Homo sapiens: one gene and its partners. The protein of the gene in region 3 interacts with the protein of the main gene of each other region in a biochemical or structural test. Each region holds a gene or a part of one and is shown on either strand. Other genes may lie near its edges.

Region 1 (7,682 bases), on a different chromosome or scaffold from region 3:
CTGGCTAATTTTTTTTTTGAAACGGAGTCTCACTCTGTCGCCCAGGCTGGAGTGCAGTGGTGCGATCTCGGCTCACTGCGACCTCTGCCTCCCGGGTTCACGCCATTCTCCTGCCTCAGCCTCCCGAGTAGCTGGGACTACAGGCACCCACCACCACGCCCGGCGAATTTTGGTATTTTTAGTAGAGATGGGGTTTCACTGTGTTAGTCAGGATGGTCTCAATCTCCCGACCTCGTGATCCACCTGTCTCAGCCTCCCAAAGTGCTGGGATTACAGGCGTGAGCCACCACGCCCGGCCGCTAATTTTTATATTTTTAGTATAGATGGGGTTTCCCCATGTTGGCCAGGCTGATCTCAAACTCCTGACCTCTAGTGATCCGCCCGCCTCAGCCTCCCAGAAGGCTGGGATTACAGGCTTGAGTCACTGTGTCTGGCCTGTATTTTGTATTTTTTTAGTAGAGACGAGGTTTCCCCATGTTAGCCAGGCTGATCTCCAACTTCTGACCTCAGGTGATCCACCCGCCTCAGCCTCCCAAAGTGCTGGGATTACAGGCGTGAGCCACCGTGCCCGGCCTTAGGTTGCAGTGAGCTGAGATTGAGCCACTGCACTCCAGCCTGGGTGACAGAGCAAGACTTTGTCTCAAAAAATAAATAAATAAATAAATTAATTAAATTAAATAAAACCACCCAGTGATGGAGCTCCTAATATCTCTGTTTTACAGGTGAGGAAACTGAGGCAGAGAGAGGTCAAGTGTTTCAAGGTCACAGAGGGAGTAAATGGTGGGAATTAATAGAAACCAAGGCAGTCTGGCTCCGAGTCCATCCTCTCGATCAATATTACACTATCTGTCTCTGCAGTTGGCATAAATAGTTTGTTGAATTGAAGGTTATTTGCTTTCCAGTTGCTGAAACAATTTAAGCCTGGACTCCACCCATTGCTGGGAGGGTAAGGAAGTGTTTGGCAACCCCAGTGATCTGGCCAATTGTGGGCCTGTTCTTTGAAGCACCACCTTACTCCTTCCAATCCACTCTGCCTCAGCAGTGATCCCTGGAAAGGATCCTCAGATAGATAGCAGAAACGTGAAATCCTGCCAACTAGCCCATCCCTCTTCCAAGTCTACCACCCCATTCCCAGAGGACCCCAATGGGCAGGTTACCACAGTGTCTGGGTAAGACCTAACCATCTTTCCATCTGGTCTCCAGCTCTGACAGCTGGAGCATATAGGAGAGCAATGACCCTGGCCTTTGGCCCTACATGGTTTCTACCATAGGCCCAGTTTCTGCTACAACTTCACTTGCCCCTTCTTCCCAGAAAGCCAAGCTGTCCAAAGGTTGTAAGGCAAAGGGTATGGAGGGCCCCAGGTATTCCTAACCAATAAAAGAGAATACACATCGATATGGTAGCCGCTAGAATAAACACCCTATCTTTCATCCCAACTTGGGAGCTGAGTGCCGTGGCATCATCCAGGCTCTCCCTCCCCTTTGCTTCTGGTTTTCCTCTTTGTCCCAGGGTGTCCTCCCATTAGGAGCCCTGGCACAGGGCTGTGACAGCCACAATCAGTGGGCCAACTGGAGTGTGGTTCTGGGGCAATTGCCCTGGAGCAGCTGCAAGGCACTTGCCCTTTGGATCCTAACCCAGCCACCTCCTGCCAGGCTGGGGAGGAGCAGCGTGCATATACTAGGCTGGCCAAGGAGGCAGAGTGTGGGGATGACCAGGGAGGTGCCCAGTGGGAGCAGGGGTAGCTGAAGCAGATGTCCTTTCACACTTCCTGCTATTCGCTCCATTTCCTGTGGCCCAGAATTTCATGGGGGTGAGGGAAATTGTGCCAAGTTAGCAGTCTCCTTTGGTCCATCCGTCCCACTCCCTGAACCACATGACGGAAATCAGGGGCCTCCCACAAGTCAGCAACTTCCCCTTTCTCTGGGATGTTTAAACCCTGATCCAGGAGACGGATCATCTCTCTGATGATCTCTTTCTGATGCTCGTCTACTTGATGCTCAGAAACCCGGGTTCTCATACTCTATAGGTTGGAAGTGGGGTTGATATGATGTTTTGCAGAGCAAGCCAGAGCTCAGGACCAATTCCCTATTCCTGATACCCTCTGAGTTGAGGCCTACAGCCCCAACCTTTTCGTCTTTTGCTCCCGCTCCCCTGCGACTCAGGCATCCACCCCTTGCCCCTTGGGGGTGTTGAGTCACAACAGGAAGTGGATTTTGCTAGAGACCAAAAAAGAGAACTCGGGGTATCAGTGGAAGGAAAGAGCCTCGATTGCACAGAAAACATCCGGGGAGTGGACGCGCGCCCAGGGTGAATACTGCCTCCCCCACCCCCAGAGAGAGGGATACGATCTAGTTTCAGGGAGGGTCGCCACGCACTCGGCTCCCCCAAGATGAAGCTGTTGCTCCTGGCAACCCAAGGGAAGGTAGAAGTTTGGGTGAGGAGCCACCCGGCCCTCGGGACAGGTGTGGGCAGCGCGACTACCTGGGGGATATTGGATAGGAGGCTTTCCATTGGCTTGGCGCGAGTCTGGAGTGGATCCCCCCCGTCCCGGCATCCAGCCTCCCCGTACACGACCCCTCGGGGCCAGCCACCTGCTCCTCCTTCCTCCATCCCTGCATCGCAGCCTGCACGGGAGAGCCCAGTAGTCTGGCCCCACATCCCTGCGAGAACCCCGACACCGGTTTTTCTGATCCCCCTCAGGCCTCGCTTTCTGCAGGGGCCCGGGCATTTCCCCCCCACCCTCATTATCCTCGAGGACCTGCGCGTGCGGCCCCGGATGGCTGTCCCTAGGGACCCAGGCGTCCGGCCCCCAGATCCTCTCCGCTGCGCCCTCGTCTGGGACCGTCCCAGCCCCCGCCCCGAGCCGCCGCCCATGCCCCGCCGCGTGGCCCCACCTCCCTTACCTGGTCCCGGGTTTCTCCCCCATGGTGCGCGCGCCCGCCGCCCGCTCGGTTCGCGGCTCGCTCGCAGCCTCCTCGCCCGCTGCCAAGATCCCTGCTCCTCCCCGCGCCAATGCGCACGCGCGCCCTCCGCGCTCTCGCCTCTTCCCCCTCCCTCCCGGCCCCGCTCTGGTCTTGGGGAACCGGGGCCAGATGCGTCAGCCGGATCGCGCGCGCCGCGGCGCTGCCCGCCCTCTCCTAGCAGACACGCGGGGCCATTGGCTCCGCCCCCAGCCCTTCGCGCTCCTTCCCAGCCTGGTAGCCCTCCCCCGCGCGCGGGGCCAGCTCCCACTCCTCCCGCCCATCTCCCCGCCCCGCTGCAACCCCTTGAAACCGATTGGACCCCCCTAAACCAAGGCGCCCGCCTTCCAGGGGATCTAAGTCTTTCGATTGGCCTTCGGCATCCAGAACCTGCAGGGGTCTCCTCCCCTTTGTTTGCTTTCTCAGTGGCGGTGGGGGCGACCGGGCTGCTGGGGGCGGTGGAATGAGCTGAAGCGCCGTCTGGGAAGGAGGATGGTGGGGGGGAACACGTGGGTGAGCGGTTCAATTGCGTGATGCTTGCTTCAGTGCGCGCCGCTCACCTGCTCCACTCGGAGCGTGCCGCCTTCTGTGGCCAGCCCTCCCGCTTCTTCACTGCAGCGTGTCAGCTCCTCCTGGTGTTTGCATTTGATCTTCGCAGGGTTCCCTTTTCCAATGTCTCTGACTATCCATCTCCTTCACCCACCCATCCCAGCTAACATCCACTCACTCACCCGCTCCCATCCATCGGTCCATCTATGGACCCATCCATCCGTGCCTATGTTATGCTATTCACTATGCCAATCGATGGGGACACATACGAATTACCATGGCCCCTGCCTTCCTAGAATAGTTGAGGAGACACATACACAGGTATTACCCAGGAATGCTATTACAGAGGTCTGAGTCAGAAGACACAGCCGCTAACAGCAATTGGCCCGGGCGGGGGTGGAGGGAGTGCAGGCTGTCCAGAGCGGGGAACAGATGAGGACAGTCTTTCTGAAGGATGCGCAGAAGTTTTTTTTCTTTTTCTTGTTTTTTTTTTTTTTTTTGAGACAGAGTCTCACTCTGTCGCCGAGGCTGGAGTGCAGTGGTGAGAGGTGACAGCGTGCTGGCAGCTCTCACTCACTCTCGGCGCCTCCTCGGCCTTGGAACCCACTCTGGCCGCGCTTGAGGAGCCCTTCAGCCCGCCACTGCACTGTGGGAGTTCCTTTCTGGGCTGTCCAAGGCCGGAGCCGGTTCCCTCAGCTTGCGGGGAGGTGTGGAGGGAGAGGCGCGGGCGGGAACCCGGGCTGCGCGCGGTGCTTGCGGGCCAGCGCGAGTTCCGGGTGGGCGTGGGCTCGGCGGCTCCGCACTCGGAGTGGCCGGCCAGCCCCGGGCAGTGAGGGGCTTAGCACCTGGGCCAGCAGCTGCTGTGCTCAATTTTTCGCTGGGCCTTAGCTGCCTTCCCTCGGGGCAGGGCTCGGGACCTGCAGCCCGCCATGCCTGAGCCTCCCCTCCCCCTCCGTGGGCTCCTGTGCGGCCCGAGCCTCTCCGACGAGCACCGCCCCCTGCTCCAAGGCACCCAGTCCCATCGACCACCCAAGGGCTGAGGAGTGCAAGCACATGCGGACTGGCAGGCAGCTCCACCTGCGGCCCCCAAGCGGGATCCACTGGGTGAAGCCAAATGGGCTCCTGAGTCTGGTGGGGACTTGGAGAACCTTTATGTCTAGCTAAGGGATTGTAAATACACCAATCGGCACTCTGTATCTAGCTCAAGGTTTGTAAACACACCAATCAGCACCCTGTGTCTAGCTCAGGGTTTGTGAATGCACCAATCCACACTCTGTATCTAGCTACTCTGGTGGGGACTTGGAGAACCTTTGTGTCTACACTCTGTATCTAGCTAATCTAGTGGGGACGTGGAGAACTTTTGTGTCTAGCTCACGGATTGTAAATGCACCAATCAGCACCCTGCCAAAACAGACCAATCAGCTCTCTGTAAAATGGACCAATCGGCTCTCTGTAAAATGAACCAATCAGCAGGATGTGGGTGGGGCCGATTAGAGAATAAAAGCAGGCTGCCTGAACCGGCAATTGCAATGCACTGGGGTACTCTTCTGTTAGGTAGACCTTTTGTTCTTTTGTTTTTTGCGGTTAAATCTTGCTGCTGCTCCTTTTTTGGGTCTACACTGCCTTTATGAGCTGTAGTACTCGCTGGGAAGGTCTGCAGGTTCACTCCTGAAGCCAGTGAAACCACGAACCCACTAAGAAGAATGAATAACTTCGGAGACACGGCCTTAAGGGGGGTAACACCGCAAAGGCCTGCAGCTTCACTCTTGAGCTAGCGAGACCACGAACCCACCAGAAGGAAGAAACTCTGAACACATCCGAACGTCAGAAGGAACAAACTCCGGATATGCTGCCTTTAAGAACTGTAACACTTGCTGTGAGGGTCCATGGCTTCATTCTTAAAGTCAGTGAGACCCCCTACAAATTCTGGACACTGGTGTTGTGTCGGCTCACTGCAACTTCCATCTCCTGGGTTCCAGCTGTTCTGCCTCAGTCTCCCGGGTAGCTGGGATTACAGGTGTCCACTACCACGCCTCGCTAGTTTATATATATATATTTTAGTAGAGATGGGGTTTCAATATGTTGGCCGGGTTGCTCTTGAACTCCTGACCTCAAATGATCCGCCTGCTTGCGCCTTCCAAAGTGCTGGAATTATAGATGTGAGCCACTGCGCCCAGCCTCTTTTTTTTTTTCTTTTTTAGGAGATGGAGTCTCACTCTGTCACCCTGACTGGAGTGCAGTGGTGGGATCTCGGCTCAACAAAACCCCTGCCTCTTGGGTTCAAGCAATTCTGTGCCTCAGCCTCGTGAGTATCTGGTATTACAGACACCTGCAATGCCTGGCTACTTTTTGTATTTTTAATAGAGACGGGGTTTCACCATGTTGGCCAAGCTGGTCTCGAACGCCTGACCTTGTGTTCCACCTGCCTCAGCCTCCCAAAGTGCTGGAATTGCAGGTGTGAGCCACCGCGCCTGGCTGGGCAGAAGTTGAGAAAGGGCATTTCAAAGAGAGAGACAAGGCACGTCCTGTTGCGTAGTGTTGGTGGGGAAGTCTGGAACAGGCTGTGGAGGATTTTGTATAGCAGATGGAGTGAGATGGAGGGCCCCACAGAAGGACATGTGGAACCAGTACTGGTTTTTAAAGCAGAGGGGGTTGGGTGCAGTGGCTCACGCCTGTAATCCCAGTACTTTGGGAGGCCGAGGGGGGTGGATCACCTGAGGTCAGGAGTTCGAGACCAGTCTGGCTAACATCGTGAAATTTAGCCTATAATCCCAGCTACTCGTGAGGCTGAGCCAGAAGAATCACTTGAACCTGGGAGACGGAGGTTGCAGTGAGCTGAGATCGTGCCGTTATACTCCAGCCTGAGTGAGAATAGTGAAACTTCGTCTCAAAAACAAACGGGCCGCGCGTGGTGGCTCACGCCTGTAATCCCAGCACTTTGGGAGGCTGAGGTGGGCGGATCACGAGGTCAGGAGATCAAGACCATCCTGGCTAACGTGGTGAAACCCTGTCTCCACAAAAAAGTACAAAAAATTAGCCGGCATGGTGGCAGGCGCCTGTAGTCCCAGCTACTTGGGAGGCTGAGGCAGGAGAATGGCCTGAACCTGGGAGGCAGAGCTTGCAGTGAGCCAAGATCGCGCCACTGCACTCCAGCCTGGGTGACAGTGCGAAACTCCATCTCGAGGAAAAAAGAAAACAAAAAACCTCCGAAAAACGAAAAATGAGCCAAATATAGTGGCTAGTGCCTAGAGTCTCATGTACTAGGGAGGCTGAGGTGGGAGGATCGTTTGAGCTGGGAGGTCAAGGCTGCAGTGAGCTGTGATCATGCCACTGCACTCCAGCCTGGGGAAATATTTTTTCAGCACCTTTTATGTACCAGGCACTGTTCTAGGTGATAGGAATAGCATAGTGTAGGAGACAGGAGCCCTTTCATGGAGTTTGTATTTTAGACAAGAGATAGTTAATAAGAAAGCAAATTTCTGGTAATGACATGAATTATAAACAGGCAAATGTGATGGAGGCTGATGGGGGTTGGAGTGGGAGCTACCGAAAAAGAAGTCGTCTCAGGATGGCAAAATGGCGTTAGTTACATAGAATCAAAGGACAGTTTCTCCAGCATAATCAGCAACATGTGCAAAGGTTCGGATGTGAGAATGGGCTTTGCTGGAAAATAGAAGGCTAGCGTGGCTCAAGAATAGGAAGAGAGAAGGAAAAGGGTACTTGTGGTATGTGTTGAGGTCAGGGAGGTGGGTATGAGTCAGATTGGGTGGATTCTTTTAGGCCTCAGTGACGAGATGGGATTTCATTCTCATCACATTTGGAAGCCACAGAGGGGTTGAAGCTAGGAGTGACAACAACTTGTTTACATTTGAAAAGACCACTTTGGTTGCTGTGTGAAGGGACTACAGGGTGCTAAGAGGGAAGCAGAGAGCAACGAAGGCTTTGTAATAGACTAGGTGAGAGTGAATGGTAATTTGGACCGGAGCGGCAGTGGAGATGGAGAAAAATTAACGCTATTGGGTTAATGTATTTTGGAGGCCTTGAATGCCAGGACTTGAAGGATTGGATAGGAGGCAATAAGAGGAAAAACGGGCCAGGTGGGGTGGCTCACACCTGTAATCCCAGGACTTTGGGAGGCTGAGGCCGGCAGATCACTTGAGGTCAGGAGTTTG
Region 2 (5,931 bases), about 74 Mb from region 3:
GTAGAGCCTGCAGAACCATGAGCCAATTAAACCTCTTTTCTTTATAAATTACCCAGTCTCAGGCATTTATAGCAATGCAAGAGCAGCCTGATAAACCTCCCAACAGCTGCGTTCTCCCAGTCGTCTTGCCATCAGTGGAAATATATTACACTATACACAACAGGGATCCTGGGGTCTCCTGTGTGTGAGGGAGCATGTTACATTCTCTTGAGAGTGATGGGTGAGATTTTTAGGTTCATTAAAAGAAAGCATGGGTTAAAAAAAAACCAAAACTTTAGAAACACCGATTTACATTCTCTACCCCCAGGTCTCCTTGTGACGATCACCCCCAAAATTTTCAGATTTTGTCTGGCCATAAAATTGAGATTTGGGCATTATTAGCATCATGTTGGAATCACTGGTGTGAACTAGTTACCATAACCCCCACTGGAGGCCTCTTTAGCCCTTTCTTGTGCATGATACAAAGGGTAGGCAGAAGAAGAGACACAGGCCCTGGGCCCCCAAAGACAAGGCCATCTGAAGGACAGGGTTACGAGTTTATTTCTTGGTGCCTCCAAGAGCTCATGGAAAAGCAGCACAGTGAGCAACAAGCAACAGTGGTCAGTAAATGTATATGACTCAACACATTGCCACAGTCTCAGCTTGGCTGTGTGGTACATGCTGCCAAGGGTCGGGTGCCAAGAGAGAGCAGAATGAAGCCAGGTCCCCAAGGAAGTGAGGGCCCAAAATAGGGAGTGTGGGTGATGAGGGTGGAGTTCAAATCCAGATGTCAGAGCTACAATCGCCCCCAGGGTAGCGGAGCTCATGGGCAAGGGCTGGGCCAAGGGGCTCCTTCCCGAAGTCCACCAGGAAGTTGGGGTTCAACTTCAGCCCTCCTTTTACTGTGTCTACATCAACCTGCAGCATCACAGAGCCTTCCCTGGTGGAAAAGGGAATGGGGTAAGGGAGAGGTCAGAGGTGGCTGCCCCCTTCCCCTAAGATTTTAGGGGAAAGCTCCTGAGGAAGGAGGAATGACCAGGGTCTCAATGGGCCATCTGTGTGGTGGGGTACAGGGGTCTCCTTGAGGAGTCTTCAGAAAGCCAAATGACCCCTCTGGAAGAGGAGGGCTGGGGAGGAGAGCCCATGTGTCTGCTTCTCACCTGATGAGATCAGGGTAAAACTGCTTGTCCCAGGCACTGTACAGCGACGTGGTGATGTAGAGGCGCTTCCCATCCAGGCTGAGCTGGATCATCTGAGGGCCTCCAGCCACCCGTTTTCCCTTGGGAAAACCAGGGGTCAGAGCCCAGGGTAACACACAGATCCTAGGCACCACCCCAACCCCAAGAGTATGCTCAGCTGCTCCCCCACATATTCCTCAAGCATGGGTCTGAGGGGTCCAGCAAGTAGGGGGAGAGGCTCTTACCTTGACCACTAGGGGCTCTGGCTGGGACTTTAGTTCCTCGTCCTCCAGCACTTGCACAGGGCCTCCCTTAACAATGCTGCCTCCGAGGAAGAGCTAGATGGGGAGGTGCAGAGTATAAGGAGGACCATAGTGGGAGGCGCAAACATTGCAGGAAGAGCAGCTTGCCTGGCTGGAACCCCTCTCTCCTTTCAGACATGCTCTGCATGCCCATCCCTGGCCTGGACAGTCCTGGGCCTGTGCTGTCCCACAGCACACATGTCTGCTTTTCCTGCACCTCCCTCAACATCCTGCAGCTGCTTCAGATCATCCACCCCATCCCCAGCTTCTCTTCTCTTTCCTTCCTTCCCTTCTGCTCCTCCTGCCAGGGTCTCCACCTGTCCTGTGAGGCGGGGTCTCTGTGGGTCAGAGATGTCATACTGCCTCAGGTCCCCATGCAGCCAGTTGCTGAAGTAGAGGAAGCGGTCGTCCAGGGAGAGCAGGATGTCGGTGATCAGGCCTGTGGGCAGGGGGCGAGTAGAGCCTTTAAGGACTCTTGTTTCCCAGGCCAAGAATCAACTTTCCTATGCCCTAGGCACTCACCTGGCATTTCGGGCAGCAGCCAGCCCTTCACTTTCTTGGGGGGCACCTGGATCACCTTCTCCACTGACCATGTACCTCCCTACATTGAGGGGTGGAGGGTGAGGTTAGCTGGCAGAGAGGTCAGCCTATCAGAATTGGGGACTAGGGGTTAGATCTGGGTTGCCCAGACCTGGGAGGGAGAGAATAGATGCCCGGCCTTCTTGCCAGCAGGATCTAACTCCATGCAAGCCCCTTGAGGCAGGGGTTGTGTCTGCTTCACCACTGCATTCCCAGAACATAGCACAGTGCCTAGCACAGACATTCACTAAGTAGTTTTTGAATGAATGGATAAATACGGCCAGTTAGGGTTCAGGCAGAAGTTGCCCTAGCACTGAGAGAAGAGAGACAGGGCATGCAGCCTCATTTTTTTCGTTCCTGGAGACGCCTGGGAGCACCGTTACAGAAGCCTGCTTAGGTAGAGCTGCTGACAAGACTACTGGGAGGGGAGGGCCAGAGGGCGTATGTCACCTCGTTCTTGTAGAAGCGCTGGATGGTGGAGCTGAGTGCGCAGCCCACAAAGCCTTGGGCAGCGTCTGGGTTGTGCAGGAAGCGGATCTCCAAGGGAATAAGCCCATCTTTTAGAGACAGGGTCTGCACAATCTCATGGCGCTGCCAGTCCCATACATATAAGTGGCTCCCGTACAGTCCTGGGGTGGGAGTGGGGCCGGAGGATAGGCTCAGCATCAGAGGTTGGAAGGCATGGGCAAAGACTGGGCCACCAATCAGGGCAGAAGGTTAAGAAATGGATTGGAGGGATCAGGAAGACGCTTGAGCAATCTGAGCATGCGGTACATCCTATGCCATCTCTCTTAGATTCTGGGGCCACAGGAGGGAAGTGTGGGGGTGGGAGATTTGGAGCAGAAAGCAAGGGGATGTAGGCCCAAGGCTCCTGCTGGCACATGGGGGGATTCTCACCAGCCTCCACATCAGCGGGGTTGAAGCCATCTCGTAAGACATTGGGAGCTGCCCACTCAGTGCTGATCATGACATTGTGTCGAGGCTGGTACCAGAAGTCATAGCCCAACGGTGCAGCACCCCCAGGTCTCTCCCATGTCCCCTTCACCTCGAACGTCTCCCCATCCAGCAGCACAAAACCCCCTGAACAGGGAAGGAAGCAGGGTGGCAGGTAGAAGCAGTAGAGACACTAACCCCACCCTCCAGCCCTCTCCCCGAGGCATGTCTAAGAGGCTGTAAGCCCATTGCCTCTACCTCCACTGCTGGATTTGCCAGTTCCTTAAATTCAGGCATCCAGGGCTGGGGGAAGAGTGGCTCATGCCAGTAATCCCAGCCCTTTGAGAGGCTGAGGCGGGCGGATCACTTGAGGTCAGGAGTTCAGGATCAGCCTGGCCAACATGGTGAAACTCTGTCTCTATTAAAAATATAAAAAATTACCCAGGCATGGCGTCACATGCCTGTAATCCCAGCTACTCGGGAGGCTGAGGCAGGATAATCTCTTGAACCAGTGAGGCGGAGGTTGGAGTGAGCTGAGATTGCGCCACTGCACTCTAGCCTGGGCAACAGAACGAGACTCCCATCTCAAAAAAAAAAAAAAAAGAGAAAAGAAAAAGAAAAAAGAAAAGAAAAAGTAAATAAAAAATTCAGGCATCCAAAGGGTCTCATCCAGGTATTCAAATTTGGCCAGGTGGCAGGGGGGCCTTTACGCCAGTGCCCCTGTCTCCTGTCTACTTCATCTCTCTCTCAGACCACAGCAGAAACGTTTCTCCCACGAGATCTTCTGGGACTCAGCACCTGGTATTTCTCTTGTCCAGCCTCCCACTTTTGGAGTGGGATTCCTCCCAGAGTCTAAGCTCCATTCTGCTCACTACATTTTTTTGAGAGAGGGTCTCACTCTGACGCCCAAGCTGAAGTGCTGTGGTTCAATCACAGCTCATTGCAGCCTTGACCTCCCTGGGCTCGGGTGATCCTCCTACCTCAGCCTCTTGAGAAGTGGGGGTTATAGGCCTGTACCACCACACCCAGCTAATTTGTGTATTTTTAGTGCAGAGTTGCCAGTGCCAACTCTGTATTATCAGCAGACAACACAGAGATGGGGTTTCACCATGTTGGCCAGGCTGGTTTGGAACTCCTGAGCTCAAGCGATCCGCTGGCCTCGGCCTCTTGAAGTGCTGGGATTAGAGGAGTGAGGCACAACACCTGGCCTGTTTTGACTATAACTTTGAACTGAATTCATCAGTGAAGACTCATCTTAATAGAAATATTCAAAACTGAAGTTACTTGCTAACATTTAAAATACTGGCTGGGATCCAGCTCACTGGTTCTCCTTGGGAAGTCATTCCAACCCTCCCCTTCCATTCTGCTCCTCCCACAGAAAAATGCTTCCCACATTTCACAGCTGTGGAAGTTTTCATGAGCACACAGTGCTGGCAGGTACCTTTGCCATTGCCCTTGACGTCTCCCAGGGAGCTGATCATCACTTCCCCGCTGGCCAGGCAGTGGCTGGTGTGGAGAAAGGCCAGTTCGCACTTGGCATGGATGTCCTTGGGCTCAATGACCTGGAAGGGGTGGGGAATGGTGTCAGAATCATACAGGACTGGGAGTCCCTGCTCTTAACCTCCATACTTCCCCTACTTCTATCTGCTGACTCTGTCATCTTTTCCTTCAAAACATGGACACAACTCTCCCTGTGGGAATATGACAAAGATTCAGTCTGGTAACTTCTACAGAGCAGCAAGGGAAAGTCAGAGAGATTGCTAATAACTCCCCAGGCAGAAAGCGCTGACCTTTCCCCATGTGTCCTGAAGGCACACGCAGCCCTGTGAAACCATAAGCTCCTCCCAGGCTGGCCTACACCAGTGTCAACTCTGTATTACCAGTAGACAACACAGTAAATGCCTGGCACCAAAAGTGCACTAAACAAAGTGTTGGGAGAGACCGGAATTTTTAAGAGAACCCTGAGCTCCTAACTGCATGGGGGAATAAATGGCTCCCTCCCTCTCTCAGAGTAAAACAAGAAGCCTTGTCCCTCTTCTCCCATGCCCTGGTCACCGTGCTGGAGGGTGATGACCCAGAATGCCTGGGTAGACTCTGCTCTGAGGTCCAACCTCCCTCCCTGCTGCCGAGCCAGTTGCCGCGTAAGAGCTGGAGGCTGCTGGTTTAGGTCTGGCTTCCTGCCCGTAGACTACCTGGGGTGGCAGGTGTCTTATGGTCTACTGAGCTGGCAAGGGCAGAGGACATGCCTTGTGCAGCTTTGGGGCCCGGGGCTCAGAGCCCACGTCCACCACATAGATGCGAGAGGAGATGAGACTGGGCAGCACCAGCTTGGTGCGCGACTTGGTGCTATCACCGAAGCAGCTGCTGCAGGTGTTCCATCCTGAGTGATGCAGCTCGTCCTTCAGGTTGGGCATGGGCAGCCGGTGGATGACCTAGGATGCGGGGAGAGGTGGTGCTCCCCCAGGCCACGCCTCTGTCCACTTTTGGAAGAGGCGCCCTGTGGACTCATTTTGGTTTGGAAGCACGGCACAGGCTGGATTTCAGCACTCCCCTTGTCCCAGGTTGAGCGTGCACAAGCATCCCCAGGGAGGGCCAAGAAGGATGGAGCTGGGAAGGGGGGGCCCAGGGCCAGGGATGAGGGCAGCTATGGTCTCAAAGTAGCTGGCGCCCAAGCCCCGCCTAACCTGGCAATACTGGGGAGACTTGGGGTCAACATCCACAGTGGCCAGATAATCTGGGGCCTCAGTGCCTGTGTTTCGGTAAATGCAGGGCAGGTAGACGATCTCTTCCCTGGGTCCTGCACGGTAGAAAGCAGGCAGCAGGGACGGCAGGGTGGGAAGGAAAGGTAGGGGAAGTGCTGGGTGTGCCAGAGGGTGGGGGCTAGGTCTGAAGTCCCTCCACCCCCAGCTGTGGAATCAGTAGTAGGGCGCTGGCTCTCAGACCATGGGCAATTACCTTTC
Region 3 (5,395 bases):
TTTGAAACCAGCCTGAGCAAAATAGCAAAACCCCATCTCTACCAAAAAAAGAGATAAAAATTAGCCAGTCTCATAACCCAGTCTCAAAATAAATAAAAATTTTAAAATAAACTGGCTGGGCACAGTGGCTCACACCTGTAATCTCAACATTTTCGGAAGCCAAGGCAGGTGGATCACCTGAGGTCAGGAGTTTGAAACTAGCCCAGCCAACATGGTGAAACCCCATCTCTACTAAAAATACAAAAATTAGCTGGGTGTGGTGGCTCATACCTGTAATCCCAGCTACTTGGGAGGCTGAGGCAGGAGAATCACTTGAACCTGGGAGGCGGAGGTTGCAGTGAGCCAAGACTGTGACACTGCATTCCAGCCTGGGAAAGGGTGAGACTCTGTCTCAAAAGAATAGATAAATAAAATAAAATAGGAACAGCAAGAAGGTATTAATATTAACAAACTTTGCACCTTTTACCTTTAACATCTATCAAATAAATTCAACATTCAAGTTTTACATTTTAAAGACATTTTTATTGAGCTAATTTTAACAACATTGCTTTAGCTGGTGACAGCTGCCCCAAACCAAAACAAAGCCATCATGAATGCTATTCAACATCCTCAATGTAATCCAGTATGTTTTTGTACTTGGAATATAGTTAAACTTTTGACATTACATAATCAAGCAAATAGCAGTGCATACTATATTATTCAAAAAGACTTTATCTATTTCATTTAAAAAATCAAGTTGCAAGTGGCCTCAGCTTTATCAACAATCGTAGTGACACATTCCACACTTCATGCTCTCAAAATAAAAAGTGCCCTAAAACTAACTCTAAGTTTTTTAGTCACTGACATTAATACTAACCAGGTTACAGGAATTGAAGTTTAACATTGTACAATATAAGCGGCAATAAGTTACTGATATCTGCTGACAAATTCCACTCAAACTAAATATATCCTTGATACATTCAAAAAGACATTTTGTAAATTTTAATAAGCTAGTTAGTGTATATGCTGCAGTGCAAAAAAAGTGACACCCTAGTTTCCTGAGCTTTAGGAAATTAACAATTTTCTGACTACTACTTTCAACTTAAAATAGGCTCTTTATTATATGAAGCCATGACAAAACTATACAATTAAATTGGGCTTTTGGAGAACTGAAAGACTGGTCAGAGTCAGGGTGATTTAGGACAATGAAAAAGTTTTCAAAGCAAAAGTATTTACAACACTACAAAGGATACTATGGATCTGCATGTAGTGTAAAGATTAAAGATAACCTACTGATTTCACAATTGTCCCTCCTCTTTCAAAAATATTACACTGGGCCAGGCGCTGTGGCTCACACCTGTAATCCCAGCACTTTGGGAGGCCGAGGTGGGTGGATCACCTGAGGTCAGGAGTTTGAGACTAGCCTGGCCAACATGGTGAAACCCCATCTCTACTAAAATACAAAAATTAGCCGGGCATGGTGGCAGGTGCCTGTAATCCCAGCTACTCGAGAGGCTGAGGCAGGAGAATCGCTTGAACCCAGGAGGTGGAGGCTGCAGTGAGCTGAGGTAACACCACAGCACTCCAGCCTGGGTGACAAAGCAAGACTCTGTCTCAAAAAAAAATTACACTGAAAGACTTTATGGTAAGTATTTAAAACTAAATATACCAACCTGTGGTATATTACACATTTTAATATATTCTTCCATAATGCCCACTAAGAAGAAATAAATGGGATAAATGATGAAAAAAAATAAAGCAAATAAACACGCTTTTAGGAATGTTTTCGCATGTGTACATGTCAGGGCACATGAAAATGATTCCTCATTAGAACTCTCTACATCCTAAAAATTACAAAGACCGAGTTTCTACTTCAATTTTTTCTTCTGCTTGAAGTATATCTGGATCAACATGAACAACCGGAGGTCGCAGGATAACTTCAGGCCCTCCACCATAAATAGACTGCAGAAAATTCCATGTTTCTTCAGAAATCTGGCCAGAATCTGCTCCTTAAAATTACGTAGAAGAAATAATGTTTACAAACCTATATATTCATATTGCAAAAGCGTTCATAATGTACCCCCCAGCATGAATCTTCTCGGGATAATTGAGAACTTCTGGAACATGAATCTGCAGACTACCAGCCCATATTGTTATAAGCTGAAACATATGGCTTGTCTTAAAAAGTCAGAGATGCTTTTGCTTTGCTCTTAACAACAGCCTTAAGACCTTTCCTCAGATAAAAAAAAAGTGGCTGCTTTTCATTACTTGCCCTAGTTAATGTATGGATTACATTCTTCAGTTGAATAAAAAAGTACTATAGATGACTAATGATAACATATTTCTAACAGTGACAAATCACTCACAAGTAAAAGCTTAAATACGAGTCAAACTTACCTTGCCTAAGCATCACATTACCACATTTAGTGACTGCAATCTTAGTATTGTCAATAGGACCTGGAGGATCTAAAGGAAAAAATATCAAAATGTATTTTTCAAAGAAATGTAACAAAAAATTGCATAATTTTGTGCTTGACAAAATTGTGACCTATAACTACATTATCAGACTGGTTATTTCTCAGGCAAATTATTATAGTTAATTCTTTTTTTTTTTTTTTGAGATGGAGTCTCGCTCTGTTGCCCAGGCTGGAGTGCAGTGGCACCATCACAGCTCACTGCAACCTCCGCCTTGGGTTCAAGTGATTCTCCTGCCTCAGCCTCCTGAGTAGCTGGGAATACAGGCACACACCACCACGCCCGGCTAATTTTTGCTTTTTTTTTTTTTTTTAGTAGAGATGGGAGTTTCACCATGTTGGTCAGGCTGGTCTCGAACTCCTGACCTCACGATCTACCCACCTCAGCCTCCCAAAGTGCTGGGATTACAGGCGTGAGCCACTACACCTGGCCTATGGTTAATTCTTAATGTCTTCTCCTGAGCTTCTTCGTTTTTAGTTCTTAGTTCCCCCAAAACAGAACCAGGAAAGAAGGTAAGAGAGGCTCGTTCACAACCATCACAGTTTAACAGAAATGTTTTGTTTTTTTTTTTTTTTTTGAGACGGAGTCTCGCTCTGTTGCCAAGGGCTGGAGTGCAGTGGCATCATCTCGGCTCACTGCAAGCTCCGCCTCCCAGGTTCATGCCATTCTCCTGCCTCAGCCTCCCGAGTAGCTGGGACTACAGGCACCCACCACCACGCCCAGCTAATTTTTTGTATTTTTAGTAGAGATGGGGTTTCACCGTGTTAGCCAGGATGGTCTTGATCTCCTGACCTCGTGATCCACCCCCCTCGGCCTCCCAAAGTGCTGGGATGACAGGCATGAGCCACCACGCCCGGCCCAGAAATTATTTTTTAACTCTCCATTTGGGGATTACAAGTCAAAATGTACCACTAATGCTATAAAATAGCAATTCCTTTGTAATTTGAAAGAAATTATACAATTAATTTGCTTCAGATTATCAAAGTAACATTAAGAACAATAAAAGCATTATAAAAGAAACCGTTTAAATACATTCTTTTTAAAATTTAAGGCAAAAGTGAACCGCATGGTCATCATCAAAAGTTGTAAAAGCAACTTAAACAAATTTACAATTAAAAAAACCCAATTAGAAAGTGGACAAAGAACATGAACACTTCTCAAAAGAAGACATTTATGTGGCCAAAAAAACATGAAAAAAAGATCAACATCACTGATCATTAGAGAAACACAAATCAAAACCACAATGAGATACCATGTCACATCAGTCAGAATGCCAGTTATTAAAAAGTCAAGAAACAGGCTGGGCCCAGTGGCTTATGCCTGTAATCCCACCACTTTGGGAGGCCGAGGCAGGTGGCTCACTTGAGATCAGGAGTTTGAGACCAACCTGGCTAACATGGTGAAACCCCATCTCTACTAAAAATAGAAAAATTAGCCAGGCATGACAGCGGCACCTGTAATCCCAGCTACTCAGGACGCTGAGGCAGGACAATCGTCTGAACCCAGGAGGAGGTTGCAATGAGCTGAGATCACGCCACTCCACTCCAGCCTGAGTGACAAAGTGAGCCTCTTTTTCAAAAAAAAGAGAGAGTCAAGAAACAAGAGATGCTGGCGAGGCTGTGGAGAAATGGGAACACTTTTACACTGTTGGTGGGAATGTAAATTAGTTCAACCATTGTGGAAGACAGTGTGGCAATTCCTCAAAGACCTAGAACCAGAAATACCATTTGACCCAGCAATCCCATTACTGGGTATATATCCAAAAGAACACAATTCATTCTATTATAAAGATACATGCACACATATGTTCATGGCAGCACTATTCACAATAGCAAAGATAAGGAATCAACCCAAATGCCCATCTATGATAGACTGGATAAAGAAAATGTGGTAAATATACACTATGGAATACTACGCAGCCATAAAAAGGAAAGAGATCATGTCCTATGCAGGGACATGGATGGAGCTGGAAGCCATTATCCTCAGCAAACTAATGCAAGAACAGAAAACCAAACACTGCATGTTCTCACTTATAAGTGGGGGCTGAACAACAAGAACACAAGGACACAGGGAGGAGAACACACACTAGGGCCTGTTGGTGGGGGTTGAGGGATGAGGGGTGGGAGAACAACAGGAAAAACAGCTAATGCATGCTGGGCTTGATACCTAGGTAATGGGTTGATAGGTGGAGCAAATCGCCATGGCACATGTTTACCTATGTAACAAACCTGCACATCCTGCACATGTATGCTGGAACTTACAAAATAAAAATAAATTTTTTTAAAGGTGTAGAAAAGCCAGATATGGTGGTGTGCACCTATAGTCCCAGCTACTCAGGAGGCTGAAGCAAGAGGATCGCTGGAGCCCAGGAGTTTGAGGCCAGCCTGGACAATACAGAGAGAACTCAGTAATTCAGCACTTTGGGAGGCCAAGGTTGGTGCACTGCTTGAGCCCAGGAGTTCCTGGGCAACACTGTGAGACCATGTCTCTACAAATAATTGTAAAAAATAATTTTTAAATTAGCCAAGTGTGGTAGTACATGCCTGTAGTCCCAACTACTCAGGAGATGGAGGTAGGAGGATCGCATGGGCTGAGAGTTCAGGGCTGCAGTGAGCCATAATCATGCTGCTGTACTTAAACCTGGGCAACAGGGTTAAGACCTTGTCTCTATTAATTTAAAATTTTAAAAAGTAAATACATAAATACAAAAAGCTTTAACTAGGCATATTGTTGCAGCCTTTTTCACATATCAGAATCTTTTTTTTTTTTTTTTTTTTAAAGACAAAGTCTTGCTCTGTCACCCAGGCTGGAGTACAGTGGCATGATCTCAGTTCACTGCAGCCTCCGCCTCGTGGATTCAAGCAATTCTCCTGCCTCAGCCTCCTGAGTAGCTGGGATTACAGGTGACTGCCACCACACCCAGCTAATTTTTGTATTTTTA

The links. Proteins that work in one complex are often made in the same cells at the same time.
Region 1: of the proteins of USP33 (region 3) and ARRB2, one has a biochemical effect on the other in vitro, tested with the Homo sapiens proteins (2 studies listed by BioGRID, with this or other methods).
Region 2: the proteins of USP33 (region 3) and SELENBP1 form a complex in vitro, tested with the Homo sapiens proteins (one study listed by BioGRID and IntAct).

Annotation. Positions count from the first base shown.
Region 1 is NC_000017.11:4,705,967-4,713,648, reverse strand, and holds the start of ARRB2 (beta-arrestin-2), read right to left. Parts: upstream 3,018-7,682; 5' UTR 2,928-3,017; coding exon 2,905-2,927; intron 2,891-2,904; exon of another isoform or gene 2,876-2,890; coding exon of another isoform or gene 2,760-2,875; intron 1-2,759. UniProt on the Homo sapiens protein: Functions in regulating agonist-mediated G-protein coupled receptor (GPCR) signaling by mediating both receptor desensitization and resensitization processes.
Region 2 is NC_000001.11:151,363,787-151,369,717, forward strand, and holds the end of SELENBP1 (methanethiol oxidase), read right to left. Parts: coding exon 5,927-5,931; intron 5,769-5,926; coding exon 5,656-5,768; intron 5,404-5,655; coding exon 5,218-5,403; intron 4,534-5,217; coding exon 4,413-4,533; intron 3,390-4,412; exon of another isoform or gene 3,230-3,389; intron 3,119-3,229; coding exon 2,936-3,118; intron 2,668-2,935; coding exon 2,489-2,667; intron 2,061-2,488; coding exon 1,982-2,060; intron 1,899-1,981; coding exon 1,777-1,898; intron 1,496-1,776; coding exon 1,403-1,495; intron 1,259-1,402; coding exon 1,140-1,258; intron 920-1,139; coding exon 757-919; 3' UTR 518-756; downstream 1-517. UniProt on the Homo sapiens protein: Catalyzes the oxidation of methanethiol, an organosulfur compound known to be produced in substantial amounts by gut bacteria. Selenium-binding protein which may be involved in the sensing of reactive xenobiotics in the cytoplasm.
Region 3 is NC_000001.11:77,695,487-77,700,881, forward strand, and holds the end of USP33 (ubiquitin carboxyl-terminal hydrolase 33), read right to left. Parts: intron 2,446-5,395; coding exon 2,377-2,445; intron 1,989-2,376; coding exon 1,831-1,988; 3' UTR 501-1,830; downstream 1-500. UniProt on the Homo sapiens protein: Deubiquitinating enzyme involved in various processes such as centrosome duplication, cellular migration and beta-2 adrenergic receptor/ADRB2 recycling.